2 separate regions of the Homo sapiens genome follow, and region 1 is linked to region 2. Evidence: fine-mapped expression QTL. A gene starts in region 2. The other region holds a variant in brackets. All regions are shown on one strand. Distances are from middle to middle.

The links. PIP is the estimated chance that this variant, and not a neighbour inherited with it, causes the effect.
Region 1: its variant is fine-mapped to the expression of DRC5 in prefrontal cortex (GTEx, PIP 0.97).

What each region holds. Positions count from the first base shown.
Region 1 is chr6:44,182,882-44,192,188 of GRCh38, forward strand. It overlaps CAPN11 (calpain 11), which reads left to right. Exons shown (of 23, transcript NM_007058.4): 20 at 60-138; 21 at 238-354; 22 at 824-882; 23 at 1,025-1,520. The coding sequence ends at 1,051. It overlaps LOC105375072 (a long non-coding RNA gene), which reads left to right and starts at 3,102. Exons shown (of 3, transcript XR_926835.2): 1 at 3,102-3,177; 2 at 3,927-3,999; 3 at 6,828-7,060. The variant C/G (reference allele first, on the strand shown) is at 5,438.
Region 2 is chr6:44,293,240-44,302,430 of GRCh38, forward strand. DRC5 (dynein regulatory complex subunit 5) reads right to left here and starts at 4,459. Exons shown (of 5, transcript NM_182539.4): 1 at 4,420-4,459. AARS2 (alanyl-tRNA synthetase 2, mitochondrial) reads right to left here. Exons shown (of 22, transcript NM_020745.4): 18 at 9,152-9,191; 19 at 8,821-8,931; 20 at 8,142-8,225; 21 at 7,917-8,027; 22 at 5,492-7,472. The coding sequence ends at 7,308. RefSeq lists a silencer at 4,373-4,452.

The sequences.
Region 1 (9,307 bases), 110 kb before region 2:
TCATTATTTCAACCACCATGCCATGCATGTGGCCCTACCATATCTGTCTGTCTCTTCAGGACATCTTCAGAGAGTGTGACCAGGACCATTCAGGCACCTTGAACTCCTATGAGATGCGCCTGGTTATTGAGAAAGCAGGTGGCCAAGGGTCAGGAGTGGGCCTTGGGGCAGGGAAGAGGATGGCAGTGTCCAGAGGCCCAGACTTTTCCCCTCCCCACTTCTCTCTCCCTCTCTCAGGCATCAAGCTGAACAACAAGGTAATGCAGGTCCTGGTGGCCAGGTATGCAGATGATGACCTGATCATAGACTTTGACAGCTTCATCAGCTGTTTCCTGAGGCTAAAGACCATGTTCAGTGAGTTAGGCATCTACCCACTCCCCAGCCTAGGCCAGGGGCCGCGGGCCCTTTCCCAAACACCCACCCTGATGGGTGCTGCTCCAGATCCCCTCCCCCTTACAAGGCACACATGAAATGGATTCAAAGCCCAGCTCCGCCACTTGCTGGCAGAGGTGACTTGAGCAAGTCACTTAATCTTTCTGTGCCTCCATTCCCTCCTCTTTAGAATGTGGATAATAATAGTACTGCCCTCAAAGGACTGAGGTGCAGGTTAAACCAGTTAGTCTATGGAAGGCAATCAGAACTGGGCCTGGCTCCTGGTGAGGCTATGTGAGTTGCTATCATTAATTCCCCACTTGGCTAGGGGATTTATGTGGGGAACAGCCAGGAACACCTGGTGTCGCCCCTTCCTACCTAGTTGGGAGTGGTTCTTTCGGAACACTGACTTAGCATTCAGCCCCTCTCCCCCGCTTCCTCTGTAACGCAGCATTCTTTCTAACCATGGACCCCAAGAATACTGGCCATATTTGCTTGAGCCTGGAACAGGTACTTGGAGAAGGGTGGGAAGGAATCTGCAGGATTGCACCTGCCTGCCCCTCAACCCCACCCCCACCCAGCTCTGATGTCCCCGGGCCAGCATCCTGCCCCCGTCTCTTCCCACCCTGGGATCTGCTTCCTGTCTCCACAGTGGCTGCAGATGACCATGTGGGGATAGAGGCGCTGTAGGAGCCTGGTCATCTCTACCAGCAGCAGCAGCAGCGAGGTTCTAGCCCAGGAGGGTGGGGTGCTTCTTGTAGCCCTCAGCTCTCCGGTCTCTGCTGATGAAATGGGCTCCAGGTGGCAGTGCCCGGGTCCCAGGTGCCGTGTTTACTGCAGCAGTGGGACCTCCGTGCCCACTCCCCCAGCTCAGAGGCTTTCTCTTTTTTCCCCAACCCGGCTTCTGATGGCTGGCTTTCCCCCACCATCGCTCTCTCAGAGTATATTTTACTAAAGAGTAGTTGATGCTTCCCCAGGGTCCCCCTGGCTGGGGAGGCCAAGAATAGGGAAGGGACTTGTAGCCCGTTTCTTACCCTCCATGCTTGCTGTCCTGCTCACACCTACCTGCTGACCACCCATCCTGGCACAGCCTCTGTTTTCCTCCCCATCTGTGGATACTATTCTAATAAATAGCACATGCCATTGGCTTCCATGTCTCTGTGTTTTTATGCCAAGAAAAGACTGGCAAGGGTGGAAGTCACTTACCCAGGACCAAAGGATTGGGTAGCTCTCAGCCAAGGGTGATAGGGAGCATATAGAAATGTGCAGTTGTCACAATAACTAGAGGCCATAGTTGGCGTTTATGGGCAGTGCCAGATGCTAAGCACACAAGTCCCTCCCTGTGAAGAACTGTGTGGTGTGCCCTATGGTGGAGCGCTTCTACGGGGGCTGAGCCAGGGCTCCAGGACTCTCATCTGCTGCTTCAAACTGGGGTCCCCAAAGGTGGCACTGCAGGAGCCTCGAAGGTTAAAAATCTGACACCTGCAGCCAGCAGGTCACATAAATGAACGAACTGCCGGGCGCGGTGGCTCACGCCTGTAATCCCAGCACTCTGGGAGGCCAACGCAGGTGGATCACCTGAGGTCAGGAGTTTGAGACCACCCTGGCCAACATGGCAAAACTCCGTCTCTGCTAAAAATACAAAACTTAGCTGGCCGTAGTGGCACGCGCCTATAATCCCAGCTACTTGGGAGGCTGAGGCAGGAGAACTGCTTGAACCTGGGGGGTGGAGGTTGCAGTGAGACAAGATCATACCACTTCACTCCAGCCTGGGTGACAGAGCAAGACTCTGTCTCAAAAACAATTTAAATAAATAAATGAACAAATCCTCCTCGTGTGGGACTGGGAAGGCTGAGGACTGTGGCAATAGGTGAACTCGTTCCTGCCTTAAAGGTGTTCAGATTCAAATCATTATTATTATTGTTAGAAATTTGTTGCCTGTCCACTTACTAAAACCTCCCTTAACTATCCTCCACCTTATCCAGAGAAGCTTCTTCTTTTAGAAAATCAAGCAAAGCAACTAAGTCAAGACATGTTAAAAAAAAAAAAAGTATGAAAAGAAAGCTGTAAGGAAATACAAGGGGAGGGATTGTTAGATATGAGTTCTAAATTTCTTTTCAAAGAATTAATATGTCAGTATGTTCAATTCTTTGCCTTCTATTTTTAAACTTCACTTCCTCGTAAAGCAACCTTTTCAATTACCTATTCCACCCTGACTCATTCCGATCACCTGCTCCACCCTAATTTATTCCAATCACCTGCTACCTGCTCTGCCCTGACTCCCACCAAAGCACTCACCCTGTCAGTCTCTTTAAATTAGTCAATCAGAATTAGTTTAGCCTGTGCGGTCTAACCCTAGCCAATAGGGGAACGACACAGCAGCAGGGGCCACGTGCATCAGGGATAAGAACCCCTTCCCCTCCCTTGTCCAAATGTGTGCTCACCATTGTTCCATCTATAAGGGCGCACGCTTCTATATAGAAGTAACTTGCCTTGCTGAGAATTAAAAAGAAAATTAAAAAAAAAAAAGAAATTTGTTGCTTGTCAAGCTACTGTCCTTGCAGGAGGCATGGAAGAAACACTTATTTCTGGGTCCACCTGTTTTTGACCTCGGGGTCTCTGTCCCAGGTGCCCACACCCCAACTCCAGCCCCAGCCCCCTGCAGTAGTGAGAACACCCAGGCCACTCACAGCAGCCCCTAAACTGTACTTCTCCTCCTGTCCTTCCAGAGCCCTCCACAGCCTCCCCTTCTGGTTTCTGGCAGGGACACTGGAGCCCAAGCACATGCGCTTCTCAGCCTCTCAGGTAGAGACAGCACCCCCAACTTCCCCTAGATTAGAGATCTGTCATCCCCAATGAAGCTAAACCCTTCCTGTCTCTGTGTACCTGTGCAGCTTCCTGGGGTCGCTAGCTTCCTTCCACGTGCACTAAACCCAGCCCTTGTGTGCTTAGTGAGGCAGGTGGGATTCTGATCTTCCTTAATCTGGTGACTGATTGTCTGCACCAGCCCTGGCCCCTGCCTTCTTTGTGACTTCAAAGACTAAAGCTAGTCTGCCTGGATATAAAGCCGCCTTCCCTCCATTATCACCACCCCACGCCGCCTTCAGAGGAATCGTTTCCTGTCCTGTCAGCCCTCCCTGCTTCCTCTCCGTCTCCAGTCCTGCCTGAAAGAATAGGTCACACTCTCTTTGGAGCCTCTTTGAAAGACTGTTCTCCCACTTGTCGTCCTCCCTCTCTCTCTAAGAGATGGCAGCCACCACCTGCTCTCCACAGAGCTTCTCTGAGTGATGAGCAAAAGTCCCCAGAGAGAGCAGGGAGAGGTCAGTGAGAGCCTCAAGCTAACAGGTCCATGCTGGGCATGGTGGCACATGCCTGTAATCCCAGCTACTCGGGAGGCTGAGGAGTTTGAGACCAGCCTGGGCAACACGGGGACTCCATCTTTTAAAAACAAAAACCTAGCAGGTCCTTTGAGACTCTGAGAGGTCCCGGGCAGTCCGGATTGGTTCTGGGAACCCTAGGAAGATGCTGACCCCACCTCTTGTTCCATGGCCTAGGGTGAAATGCTGCCAACTTCAAGCCAGGATGGAAAGGAAGCAGAAAACTCTCAAATCAGGACTATCCCTTCCGGTTTGTAACAAAGCTGGTTACTCACGAACACTCTGTAAACATAAAATGAAGCAAACTTCACATAAGTAGAGAGTTTATTTGGGCTAAACTTAAGGATTGTAACCCTGGAGAATAGATTCAAATTATTCTGAATATACATCCCGATTAGCAGCAGTTACAAGTGGATTTTTAGGCTGGGTACAGTGGCTCACACCTATAACCCCAGCACTTTGTGAGGCTGAGGTGGGCAGATCACTTGAGGCCAGAAATTCAAGACCAGCCTGGCCAACATGGTGAAACCCCATCTCTACTAAAAATACAAAAAATAGCCAGGCGTGGTGGCACACGGCTGTAGTCACAGCTACTCGGGAGGCTGAGGCATAAGAATCGCTTGAACCCGGGAGGCGGAGGTTGCAGTGAGCTGAGATTGTGCCACTGCACTCCAGCCTGGGTGACAGAGTGAGACTATCTCAAAAAAAGAAAAGAAAAAGTTAGCCAGGACTGGTGGCGCACACATGTGGTCCCAGCTGTGTGGGGAGCTGAAGTGGGAGGATCACTTGAGTCCAGGAGGTCGAGGCTGCAGTGAAATGTGATCATGCCAATGCACTCCTGCCTGGGTGACGGAGCGAGGCCTTGTCTCAAAAAACAAAAAGGTTTTTGTTTTGTTTTGTTTTGGGGTGTGTGTGTGTGTGTGTGTGTGTGTGTGTCAGGGCCTCTCTTTGTCACCCGGCTGGAGTGCAGTGGCACAGTTTTGGCTTACTATAACCTCTGCCTCCCGGGCTCAGGTGATCCTCCTGCCTCAGCCTCCTGAGTAGCTGGGACTACAGGTGCACATCACCATGCATGGCTAATTTTTGTATTTTTAGTAGACACAGGGTTTCACCATGTTGGCCAGGTTAGCCTCAAACTACTGACCTCAAGTAATCTGCCCCACCGCCCACCCCCCCGAGCCTCCCAAAGTGCTGAGATTAAAGTCATGAGCCACTGTGCCCGGCCCAAAATGCATTTTTAAAGGTAAAAAAGGGCTGGGCATAGTGGCTCACGCCTGTAATCCCAGCACCTTGGGAGGCCGAGGCAGGCCGATCACGAGGTCAGGAGTTCTAACCTGCCCAACATGGCGAAACCCCGTCTCTACTAAAAATACAAAAAATTAGCCAGGTGTGGTGGTGGGCACCTGTAATCCCAGCTACTTGGGAGGCTGAGGCAGGAGAATTGCTTGAACCCGGGAGATGGAGGTTGCAGTGAGCCAAGATTGCGCCATTGTACTCCAGCCAGGGTGAGAGCGTGAGACTCCGTCTCAAAAAACAAAAAAGAAAAGAAAAGAAAGGTAAAAAAGGAGGACAGTGAGTGGAATGATACAAAGTTATTTGTTAGGAATTCTCACCGGTTTTCAGAAATAACATTGATTAGTTATTGGCTATAGTGTCTGGTGTCCCATTATTAGGATAATTTATAGCTA[C/G]CTGTAGAAGTAGCAAGCAGTTTCAAGAGATGAATACATAACTTAAAGGGGAGTGCAGGGTATAGGGTGCAATTGTGTGTCATGTTACTGTCTCTCTGGGTCTGATAATTAAAAGGATTTGCATTCCTCAGATAAAAGTTATTTTTATTTTATTTATTTTTATTTTTTTGAGACAGAGTCTCTCTCTGTCGCCCAGGCTGGAGTTCAGTGGCGCGATCTCAGCTCACTGCAACCTCCGCCTCCCAGGTTCAAGCGATTCCCAGGCCTCAGTCTCCCAAGAAGCTGGATTACAGGCACCTGCCACCTCACCAAATAAAAGTTATTTTCTTTTCCCAACAATTTGCATAGTGGCTTAAGGTGAAGATTCACGAGCTATGTGTCTTTGGGCAAATTATTTTACCTTTCTAACAGAGTATCCTTTTGAATCTGTCAATTAGAGGTGACAATTCCTATCTCAGAGGGCTGTTGTATGGACAACTGCGATAATGAAAGTGAAGCACTTAGGCATATCATTCTTTTTTAAAAAAACTTTGATATTATCTATAATAGTAAAAAAATAAAAAAAACAAATTTTCAATTGTGAACATGTTATAGCCAGGAGTGGTGTGGGTCATGCCTATAGTCCTAGTTACTCGGGAGGCTGAGGCAGGAAAATTGCTTGAGCCCAGGAGTTCAAGGCTGCAGAGAACTCTGATCAAACCACTGCATTCCAGCCTGGGCAACAGAGGGAGATTCTGTCTCAAAAATAAATAAATAAATACACATTAGATGTTACACACGATAAAATATCAAGCCATTGAACTAAATAACACAAATGGCATGAGGGTTATGACATACAGTTGAATAAGCAAGATGCATATTAGATTTACAATAGTCCTTGACATTAGTGTTTACCATTTGCTTGCATTAAATATTATTAGCAATGGCTATATACAATGTTATTTAAAATTTGGAAAATGAGGCACACCATTCTTCTAGTCCCTTCAGGCTCCATTTCCATCCAACTTCACTGCAACTCCATCCCAGCTCAGCCTTAGTGCCCTGGGAGGCCATTCCCACTATGTCCTTGCTGTCTCCAAGGGACCTGTAACCACAGGCAGGCAGCCCATACTTTCTAGTCCCTTTTAGTCCTCTGCTCATAAAACCAGGTGGCTGAGTTTTGCTGGGAATGGGCACTAAACCATGCTGCCTGCATCCTCCTGATTCATGCTGGTTGACCTCGATGGAGGCCACGTGGCAAGCTAGATTTCTTCTCCTGATGACTGACTGCCATTCTCCACACCCACTGCCCTGATTTCCCCCAGACCTCTCACTACAGCCTTCATTTTTACTGCAAAGAATGAGGCTACATCAGAGAAACAGCCTCAACCCCACTTCTCTTCTCCCTCAGAATATCTTCGCAGCTTCATCCTCTGGTCTCTGAGAAAATTGGGTCCCAAATGTGCTTGAAAACCATGGAATGCCATGCAACAGAAGCAGCAGACTAGATGCCACCCAGCCACAGCTGTAGAGCCTGAGAAGATGCTGAGTGAAGAAAAAGTAAAGCAGGATGAGCTCATTAGCTTCTTTTGTTTTTTTGTGGTTGCTTTTTGTTTGTTTTGTTTAGGTACAGGGTCTCCCTCTGTCGCCCAGGCTGCAGTGCAGTGGTACAATCATGGCTCACTGCAGCCTTGAACTCCTGGGCTCAGGTGATCTTTCTGCCTCACTCTGCCATGTAGCTGGGACTATGGGTGCACGCCAACATGGCCAGCTTTTTTTTTTTTTTAATTTTTTGTAAAGACAGTCTCACTGTGTTGCCCAGGCTGGTCTCGAACTCCTGGGCTCAAATGATCTTCTTGCCTTGACCTCCCGAAGTATTGAGATTACAGGCATGAGCAACTGTGCCTAGCCCAATAGCTAGCTTATTTTTAAAAGCAATTTTAAAATATATATCTTGGAGATATTTTTCTATTAGTATATAGAGAGCTTCCTTTTTTTTTTTTTTTTTTGAGTTGGAGTTTTGCTCTTGTTGCCCAGGCTGGAGTGCAATGGCGCCATCTCGGTTCACTGCAACCTCCACCTCCCGGGTTCAAGCGATTATCCTGCCTCAGCCTCCCGAGTAGCTGGGATTACAGGCACCCGCCACCATGCCCGGCTAATTTTTTATATTTTTGGTAGAGACGGGGTTTCACCATGCTGGCCAGGAATGGTCTTGAACTCCTGACCTCAAGTGATCTGCTCGCCTCGGCCTCCCAAAGTGCTAGGATTACAGGCATAAGCCACCGTGCCTGGCCGAGATCTTCCTTATTTTTTTTATAGCTGTATAGTATTGCACTGGATTAAAGTCTCGTTATTTAGCAGTTCTTTGTTGACAGTTTTTTCCAATCTTTCATTATTATAAATAGTGCTGCAATAAATAACACTATACATGTTATTTTATCCCAGTAAAATATTTTTATACAATAAATTTCTAAAAGTAGGATTATTGGGCTAAAGAGTATGTATATCAGTAATTCTGAAAAAAAGGAAATTCCCCTCTATAAGGGTAATACTAATTTGTACTCCCACAAGCAAGATAAGAGACTGCCGTTTTCCCCTACAGACTCATAAACACCGTGTGTGGGCAAGTTTTTACATATTTCTAATCTGGTAGAAGAAAAATGGTATCTCAGCATAGCCATAATTTGCATTTCTCTTACAGCAAATGAGATTGAGCAACTGTTCATTTTTTGCTTTTGCTTGCATTTTATTTTCTATGAACTATCTCTTTATATTCTTTGGGAACATATATGTTATATATATGAAATATATGTTATATATAACATGGTATATATGTTACATATATATGTGTATATATAACATATGTTATATATTAAATACATATATTATATGTAACATATATGTTATATATATGTTCCCAAAGAATATAGAGTTACATATTTTATATATATATATATACATTTTTTTTTAAAGGTCTCACTATGTTGCCAGGCTGGAGTATGGCAGCTATTTACAGGGGGGATCATCAGGCACTATAGCCTGGAACGCCTGGGCTCAAGTGATCCTCCTGCCTGAGCCTCTTGTCCTTGCCCATTTTTGTACTGGACATTTTTTTTCTTTTTCTTTTTCTTTTTCTTTTTCGAGACAAAGTTTTGCTCCTGTTGCCCAAGCTGGAGTGCAATAGTGTGATCTAGGCTCACTGCAACCTCTGCCTCCCATGTTCAAGCGATTCTCCTGCCTCAGCCTCCCAAGTAGCTGGGATTACAGGTGCCCACCACCACGCCTGGCTGGCTTTTATATTTTTAGTAGAGATGGGGTTTCACCACCTTGGCCAGCCTGGTCTCGAACTCCTGACCTCAGGTGATCAGCTCCCCCCAGCCTCCCAAAGTGCTGGGATTACAGGCGTGAGCCACTGTGCGCAGCCCGTTTTTGTTTTTTCTTATAATTTTTTTTTTTTTGAGACAGAGTCTCACTCTGTCTCCTAGGCTGGAATGTAGTTGCGGGATCTTGGCTCACTGCAGCCTTTGTCTCCTGGGTTCAAGCGATTCTCCTATCTCAGCCTCCCGAGTAGCTGGTATTACAGGCACGTGCCACCATGCCCGGCTAATTTTTGCATTTTTTAGTAGAGACAGGGTTTCTCCATGTTGGCCAGGCTGGTCTTGAACTCCTGACCTCAGGTGATCTGCCCACCTCAGCCTCCCAAAGTGCTGGGATTACAGGTGTGAGCCACCGCACCCGGCCTCTTCTTGCTCTTTATCAGTGCCTCTGTGTGTGTGCGCGCTTGCGTGTGTGTGTGTGTGTGTGTGTGTGTTTATTTACAAAGTAATTTCAAAATAATTGTCTTAAACTGACTCCATCCCTGTGGGAGTCTGTAACTGCACTTTCCTACCT
Region 2 (9,191 bases):
ACCTTACAACTGTCCAGCACTTAACAGTTACAAGGTCCTTTCAAGGTCCTTTCAGAACTATCCTCTCAAAAAAAAAAAAAAAAAAAAAAAAGTCTGGGTGTGGTGGCTCACACCTGTAATCCTAGAACTTTGGGAGGCCAAGGTGGGAGGATTGCTTGAGGCTAAGAATTCAAGACCAACCTGGCCAACATAGTGAGATGCCGTCTCTAAAAAATAAAAAAAATCTTCTCATGTGACTCTTCAACCACCCTATAATGGAGCTAGGATGGGCTTTCTTATCCCCATTTTACAGATGAAGAAACAAGGAAACAGGAAATGACTGGCCCTAAAACACCTATGAGAGCTGGGGCCAGCGTCTGAGGGCAGGTCTCCTACCTCTAGCCACAATACACTACCCCTCCACAGTCACTCAGTATGTCCCCCTCCCCTCACTGTTCCTGCCCTCCACTAGGCAAGAAGAAAGCATATTCTTGCTCCTTGGGAAGTGGGGAGGGCCTCCCCGGGCTAAGTGCGCTCCCAGGCCTTTGGCACTCCACTAGGGGAATTTCACGGCCCTAATGTACAGTCTTCATCCCTGTTAGGGTAAATGCATTTTCCCCCTAAATGAAACAAAATTTAATATCAATACTTGTATGCCTATATCCATATGTTAACCTTGAACTGCTTTTTAAAAACATATCTCATCATTTTAGGTCAAACAAAAGCATAGTAAATCATAAAATGTATACTGACACTAATGTAGCAAACTTTTTTTTTTTTTGAGACAGAGTTTCGCTCTTGTTGCCCAGGCTGGAGTGCCATGGCGCAATCTCAGCTCACCGCAACCTCTGCATCCTGGGTTCAAGTGATTCTCCTGTCTCAGCCTCCCGAATAGCTGGGATTACAGGCATGCACCACCACGGCTGGCTAATTTTGTATTTTTAGTAGAGACGGGGTTTCTCCATATTGGTCAGGCTGGTCTTGAACTCTCGACCTCAGGTGATCTGCCCGCCTTGGCCTCCCAAAGCGCTGAGATTACAGGCGTGAGCCACTGCACCCAGCCTAATGTAGCAAACTTTTTAAAAAGTAGAAGTTGTAATATATTGTTTCTGACAGTTTAAGTGTGCAGAAATTACATATATAATACACATGACTACATATAAGATATCAGGATATATGTATTCCACACCTTAGTGTGAATGAGTTTCAGATACAAAAAGCAAAGTTAGAAAAGGGGCAAGGGAGGCGGGATATGGTGGCTCATGCCTGTAGTCTTAGCACTTTGGGAGGTCGAGGAGGGTGGATTACCTGAGGTCAAGAGTTCAAGACCAGCCTGATCAACATGGTGAAACCCCGTCTCTACTAAAAATACAAAAATTAGCCAGGCATGGTGGCACATGCCTGTAATCCCAGCTACTTGAGAGGCTGAAAGAGGTGGTTTATAAGATAATTAGGGGAAAAAAATGAAGGTTGAACCCAGGAGGCAGAGGTTGCAGTGAGCTGAGATTGCGCCACTACACTCCAGCCTGGGCAATGAGAGCAAAACTCTGTCTCAAAAAAAAAAAAAAAAAAAAAGAAAGAAAGAAAAAGAAAGGAGGCAAGGAGAATAACCACAGAAAGGAGAGGAGGTGGGGAGTGGGTAAAGGAGAAGACAGGAGTCTGAGAGAGCTCTGCCTGTTTCACAGATTGGTCTTAGTCTGGCCTGGCAGTCATCAGCCTGCAGCTGAGGGTGCAAGTAGGTGGCACTATCTTCCCTGGGAGCCTGCAGGGATGGGTGGATACCCAATAGCTGGGGGCCCCGGGCACATGGACAGTCCCCAAGGACCCACAGAGGGCAGTCCTGGAGGTGGCTGAAGGGTCACCTTCCTCTCCGGAGCTTTCTTTCCCTGGGAACCTGTTGGGCCAGTCAGAGAATGCCAGAGTTTGAAGACTAGGAGCATGTTCAAGACTCCAGTCTTGAACATGGGCAGGGCAGGAATCCTGACATTCCAGAGAGGTCAGGGCCACCAGGAGTGGGTACGTCTTGTGCCACCACCTGGTGTCTCCATCCAAGGATGTGCTGCGCTCTCAGAGGGGGAAAGTGGGAGAGTGGGGACACGTGCAGTGGACTTTCACTTCTCTGGGGCCTGCCTCACCAGCTTGTTTGGCTTCACATGGTTGTGTCTCTAACCTGGGACCACAGTCCCCAGGGAAAGGCCAATCCTCCTCCCCTGGGCCCCTACTCTGCATCCTCAGGACCAGGGTCCAGGGTCCTGAAATCACACACAGGGAACAACGTCTATACCAGGACATTAACTCAAAGGATTGGGTGTGGACTGCTCTTTCCATGCCCAAGCACAGGTAATAGAAAGTGACAAGATGTTCCAGTTTGGCCAGGGTTGTCCTCATTTCTGATGGCTTGAATCTGGTGGACAGGTGTTCTGGGAACCATACCCTTGGCTATATATAGCTATGATTTATTGAGAGCTCTAGGCCTTCAATAACATGTACATAGCAGGAGGCAGGACAGCAGCTGGCTAAGTACTCAGGAGTTGTGCTGCTGCCTCAAGTCAAATCTCCACGGTGCCCCCCACTATCTGTGCAACCTTGGGCAGGTCCCCACTTGCCTCAGTTTCTTCATCTATAACGTGGGGACAGTACTTAATAGTATCTATTTCATAGGATTACTCAGAAGATTAAGGAGCTAATGTGTGTGAGACATTTCATATAGTGCTGGGCCCAGAGCCAGCACTCAAGATGTGTGTTAGATATTGTAGTGAAGATGCTAGATACCTTACTACATAATTTTATTAAAATCTCAAATTAATTATTGAGGATTATTATTTAACACTATTGTCCCCATTTCACAAATGAGGAAACTGAAACTTAGAAAGCTTAAGTAACTTACTAAATGTCACTAGCTAGTAAGTGGAGAAGCTGAGGTTTTAGTTTGTGTCTGTCTAATGCTCTTACTTCCATGAGATGCTGGGGTTGCTTATAAATTGCTCCCAACTCAGTCATTCATAGCACTTTTCCAGTGGGTCTCCCACTTTCTCCAGCTCATGAGCTCTCTTGTTCACCAATATGGAGCCCAGGGTTATACCCTTGGTGCTGACCTAAATAGTCCAGGCTCCCTCTTCCAGTTCACTGCTGGGTATAGGAGACTTCCGCAAGGCTGGACCACTGCCTGCATCCTTTGGAGGGTGCAAGGAGCCCAACAGAGTGCTGCAGAGTGGTGCTCTCCTGCCCCTGGCATATTCCCTCCACAGGAAGTCTCAGGTCTTCTCCATCCTTCCTCAGGTCCCCAGCTAAATCTAACCATTCTGGGTAGGAGCTCCTTCCACCTGCCCTAATGGGAACACGAGGAAGATGCTGTAGGTTTGCATTCTCACCTTCTTGTGCATCACAGTTCTGGTCCTCAACTGTCCCCTCCTCCCTTCCTCTTAGTGGAGAAGTGGAGACACCCGGCCCTCTTTGGGCAGACAGCGCCTCTGTGCCCGGGACACTTCCCCAGGAGCTGGCTTTGCACCCACTGCTCTGACTGCCTTCTCTGCCTTCTCAGCCGCTCCCACCCCAGATCCCCTCAGGAGAGCCCTCCTCTGTTCTCAGGGCTCTGGGCTTTTGTCTACAGCCACCTCCATATCCTTCATGCCCACCATGTCTTACTTTGGGGTAAGTCACTCCCAAGTTGGGAATTCCACTTGTGGAAGGGCAAAAAACTTTCTCCAACTGAGCCTCGGCCCGTGTGCTTGGACTTGGGCTGGGTGAAACCGCCAGTTCACTTACCACAGCCCCTGGGCTGGCCTCCTCCCAACTCCTGACCACTCAGGTCTGTTGTCTCAAAAGTGACTCCAGCGGCTCTGGAGTCTCCCACCCCTCCTCCCTACCTTCAGCTCAGACACCCCAGCAGAGAAGCTCAGCTCCAAAGGCCAGGAGTCCCTCCCCCATCCTACCTGGGGTGTAGAGGCGCTGGCTTCTCCTTGGTAACCCAGGGAAACCGGCAGTGCAGTGGGAGGTAGGGAGATGAGGAAGCTTCCGCACCCGCGGGAGGGATTACAGCCCTCGGGTGATGGGAACGGACGGCCTTTCGGAGAAGCCTAGGGCCCCAGGGCTTGGGACCGCTCTCCTCCACGCCCTACGGATGCCCCACTTTCCCCCTCTTCTTCCCAGTCCCTCCCCTCGCCTCACTCGGATCCCCAGCCCCGGGCCAGACGGTTTGCAGACAGTGACTGTGGTGGGGAGGAGGCGCGGGGCGTCCTCGCGTGGAGGGCGTGGGGTCTCCCGTGGGTACGGACCGGCGCTTCCCCGCCACGGAAAACGCAACCCAGGCAATGGCCGCCCGTGGGCTTCGGGCCGGTGTGGGCAGAGGACGCTAGAGGGGCTCCCGGGCCCAGCCGGCCAGAGGGGGCCCCGATAAGGGAGACCGGGGCTGGGTGTCCCCACTCCCGGAGGTCGCCTCACCCGCTCCGGGAGCCCCGGCGCTCGCCTCACGCAGAGTCCCGCGCGCCGGCGCAGGTCTTTGTCGTTGGGGACGCCCCGCGTTGCTAGGAGCGGGCCGGGCCGGGAGGACGAGCGCGCCGCTGCTTCCTCCGCTGCCGCTGCCGCTGCGCGCCAGGCACGCGGCTTACTCGCGCGCAGGGTGGCCAGGCCCGGCCTCGGGACGGTTCCGTGGAAGCGGCCGCTTTGCGGGTAGTGGGACTGTGGCCTTGCGCTATGCCCTGTGCTTCCGTGGGACGTGTCTAGGAACGGGTGGGCTTTCTGCGGGAGGCGGGGGTCGGGCAGGGCTGCTGGTCTGGAGTGCTTGTGCTCTCTTGGTAGCTTTTGTGTGGCAATGGATAGGGAGCTGGTCCAGGAAAAGCGTCTGTGGAAGAAGAGGAGGGTGGACGCACCTTCTCCAAGGCACCTGTAGAAGTCACTGGAACTCCCGTGAGGCCTCCTGTTGACCTTAGGCCCTGCGGGAGGGAGGGCACCTTCCACCTTTCCCCCAGCTGAAGGTCTGGTACCAGACGCAGGAAGGTTCCAGGCCAACACAGCGCTCCTTCACACAGTCCATGCCCTGTGCCAAACTCTCTTCCAGCCCTGGCGCGACAAGATGTGGTTGGGGCCCCAGATCTCCTGGAGGGCGAGAGGGACAGACCAGAGGGACGGCTAGTAAAAAAAAAGAAATTGGCCTTCAGGAAGGGAGAGGCAGCCAGGGTGGCGGGGCTTTCAAAGGGTAGCTTTGACTTCAGCTCTGCCGAGGACTACTAGTTGGTTACCCTGGATGAACATCTCGAAGCTCTGTTAACTCATCAATAAATCAGGGGTGCCAAAACTCATCTTGGCGCTCGCGGAGGAGCTTGAACCTGGGCCTGTGGTGAGCACTGCTAAACAGGCTACTGCCCCAGTGGCCAGGATGCTGCTTTGCAAGCAGTGAGGGGCCAGGCACCCGGGATTGGGTCCCTTCAAGCCCTCAGCAGTGCCTTACCAGCAAATCATCAGTGCCTTAATTAGAATGAGAAACTGCAGAAAATGATGCCAGGCGGGCCCACGCTGCTCGAATAATTTTTACTAGACAGAATTTGGTAGCCAGGGAGCCCTTGATTTGAAGATGGATCCCCTGAGGCCCTTTCCTTCATCTAGCAACAGAGATCTAGGAACAAAGGCAGAGGTCCAAAGTCTGGCTGTCTGAGGTGGACTCATTCTGGTAGGGAAGGAGGGCTTTCCTCCATCTCTGCTTCCTCCTGCTTTGAAGTGCCAATTTTCAGCTTCAGCTCAGGCTTGAGGCAGGTGCTGTACAACTTGTTTTAATAAGCATATTGTTTGTCTGACCCCGCTCTCCAGCCTCCTCACCTGCCCCTATCCCAGCTCACTGCTCAGTGGCACTGGCCACCTCACGGCCTCTGCATTGGCTGTTCCCTCAGGCTGGAATGCTTTTCCCTGATTTCCACACGGGTCACACCCTCACCTCCCAGCTCCCTGCTCACATGTCACCTCTTGGTGAGGGAATATCACCATCCACACTCCTGATCCCCATTCTCTATTTCCCCCCCAGACCTCATCACCATCTGACACTTTCTCCCTTCTTTTTTTTAAGACAGGGTCTCACTCTGTTGCCTGGAGTGCAGTGGTGCAATCATAGCTCACTGCGGCCTTGAATTCCTGGGCAAAGTGATTTTCCCACCTCAGCCTCCCAAGTAGCTGGGACCAAGGTGTGGGTAGTCTCAGCTACCTGGGAGGCTGAGGCATAAAGATTACTTTTTTTTTTTTTTGTAGACAGGGTCTTGCTGTTTGCGCAGGCTGGTCTTGCACTTCTGGCCTCAAGCGATTCTCCAACCTCAGCCTCCTAAAATGCCAGGATTATAGGCATGAGCCACCAAGCCTGACCCTCTTCTTTTGCTTTATTTCCTGTTTCCTCCACATGAAGCAGGCTCCATGAAGGAAGGAACTGTCAGTTTAGTGCCCGCCACGTTCTCAGTTGCTCAATTCATCAACAAACCAGCAGGGCCCAATTTAAATTAGAGGTCATTGTTAATGAAAGAAGTAATAGCAAAGAAGGTCTCCAGTGCTGAAATGATTTTCACAGGATGGTTCTGTATCTTCCCAGTAGCCAGGGAGCCCTTTGTCTGCCCACTGTTGCCTGGCACGCAGAGCCTGTCCGAACACTCATGGCAATGAAGATGGCCCGATTTGGATCCTGGGTGGCCTTTCAGACAGTGTGAGTTCAGACTGGTCTTAGGTTGCTGGGAGGGGCAAAACTACTCTTTTTTAAAGGTAATAGAACCTTCTGGAGCTTGCTATCCTCTGTGAAATAATTATTTGAGACAGAGTCTCGCTCTGTCACCCAGGCTGGAGTGCAGTGGTGCGATCTTGGCCCACTGCAACCTCCACCTCCCAGGTTCAAGCGATTCTTCTGCCTCAGCCTCCCGAGTAGCTGGGACTACAGGCGTGTGCCACCACACCCGGCTAATTTTTTGTATTTTTAGTAGAGATGGGGTTTCACCATGTTAGCCAGGATGGTTTTGATCTCCTGACCTCATGATCTACCTGCCTCGGCCTCCCAAAGTGCTTGGATTACAGGTGTGAACCACCACACCCGGCCAGTGAAATAATTTCTAATGTGCAGTCACAGCCATAATTGTCCATGTCTTCTCTTTCACCAAGGGGGTGTGTGTCTTTGGGCCCAGTTCTGCCTTCCCTAGCCCATGTCTCCTTGTGTCACGTAGGCCCTGGCCCAGGTGATCTTCTTTGGCTCAGCTGCTTGGCCTCCAGCCTCTAGTCCTCGCTTCAGCATGTGGGAAGGTTCTGCTGGCTCCTTCAGGGCTCCTGGCATTGCCTTTAGTCCATGTGGGTCCCTGGGCGGACCTGGGTCAGAGCTGGCTGAGGGCATAGGTTTGGGCTATACTGAGGGCAGCTTCCAGGTCAGTAGTGCTTCCGGTGCCTTGGGCCACCACTCGTGAGCCCCACGCCTTGCCCCCCATGTGGCTGCACACTGCCAGTGCCCAGGCCTCTGCTGTGAAGGTGGGCATGGCACCCTAGGAACAGAATCAGAAGAGGAAGCGATGCAGAGTGGCCCTCCCTGCCAGCATCCACTCAAGGTACCCTCAAGAGTGGAGCTGAAGGTCATCAGTGCCCCCTTCCCAGCTGGGCACATGGTGGGGCAGTCAGGTGATGAGCCGGAGAAGGTTTGGGCTGGAAATGTGTGTGGGGAGGTGTATGAACGTGAACATCTGCTACTTGTTTACAAGGGATGTGAGGCCTGGGAGGGGTTAGGAATTAAGGAATCTCTTGGTGCCTTCTGGGGTGGGGAGGGGCTGTTTTCAGGAACAAGGAGATTCCCCATCCCTGTCCTGGAGTATCCTCATAGATACTTCCACCCAGCCTTGGCCCCTTTGGGAGGAATTAAAGGTGTAAAATCAGAGAGCTGGACCAGGATGGGTATTAATGGGGGCGGTGGGCTGCTCTCCCACTTCCCTCACCTGGGCCACCTGACAGGCACACAGCACCTTCCCCATGGGCTGGGGGCTGAGTAGGAGCACAGACGTGCTGGGGGCCTGCTCACACAGCTGCCGTACCACCTTCACCAGCACCTGGACCACGAAAGACAGATGGTGAGCCCATCGCTTCCCAGACCCCTAGCTGTCTCCTGGTCAGGACTTTGCCCTCCCCAGACCCTGGGGCAGCCCGGCTTGGCTAGCACTCACTGAGAGAGACTCAGCAGAGACTGTGTCCACAATCAGAGGCCCCTTCGAGTGCCGCTCCAGCAGCTCCTGAGTTTTCTTTGCAGCCTATGGGGCAGGAAGGACAAGCAGAGGGGTCAGGCTGAGAGGCAGGTTTCCAATTAGCCCCAACTTCTGAACTAAGCCCCAGCTGAGCAATCCCCTGCTTCCCCCACCCACCCCAAAAGTCATTAGCTCTAGGCAGAGGTGGCAGGGACTCTGCCTAGGGTGGCCTCCTTTTTGGGTCCCACATGTGTCCTTCCTCACTTCCCTCACCACTTCCCTTTCATCATAGCTTCAGGCCCCTACAAATAGGTCGCTGAAGGTGAAAGGAGGAAGGTCAGAGCACAGATGGACCAGGAGTGGGCGGGAGAAAGGGGGATCCACAGTGGAGGTGCAATCAGGGCTGAATGGCACTAATCAAGTCAGTAGGCTTCCGGGGGTTCTGAGCCAGACTTGGGAGTTGGGGGAGAAACACAGTTTGAAAGAGACAGAAGTGGGGGAATGGCCTGGGTGATGGTTCTCAGCTGGCAGGAGAAGGAAGCTGCCACCACCCCGTCCTTGCACAGCCTCTGACTCACCCCCATGCCCCAGCCCTTGAGACTTCTCAGTGTATCTGCTGGAGTGTCTCTGGGCACATGGGTGCAGCCAAACCTCCTCTCACCTGTCCCATTTGCAGCTTACGGATGGCAGTGTTGGCACGCCGCTGCAGCATCTTCACTGTGGCCAGCAGCTCCCGCCGCTGCCACTGGGGCATCACAGCAGTTTCCACAGCCTATGGCCAGAAGCAGTACATCACCCCTGCCCTTCCCTGAGCCATAGTCTCTGAGGTAGGGACCAGCAGGGCCAGGGAAGACACCCACCCTGCAGACAAATATCTGGGCCAGCTGGAGCCCAACCCAATTGGAGTGCTAGGGAGAGTCTGAAGGAGTCCAGGGAGGAATAGGGGAGGTAATAGGGCTAGGAGAGGGTGGGGTGGTAGGCGTGGCCCTCACTTCAATGAGTCGTCCTATGTCCTTGGACAGCCTCAGTGCC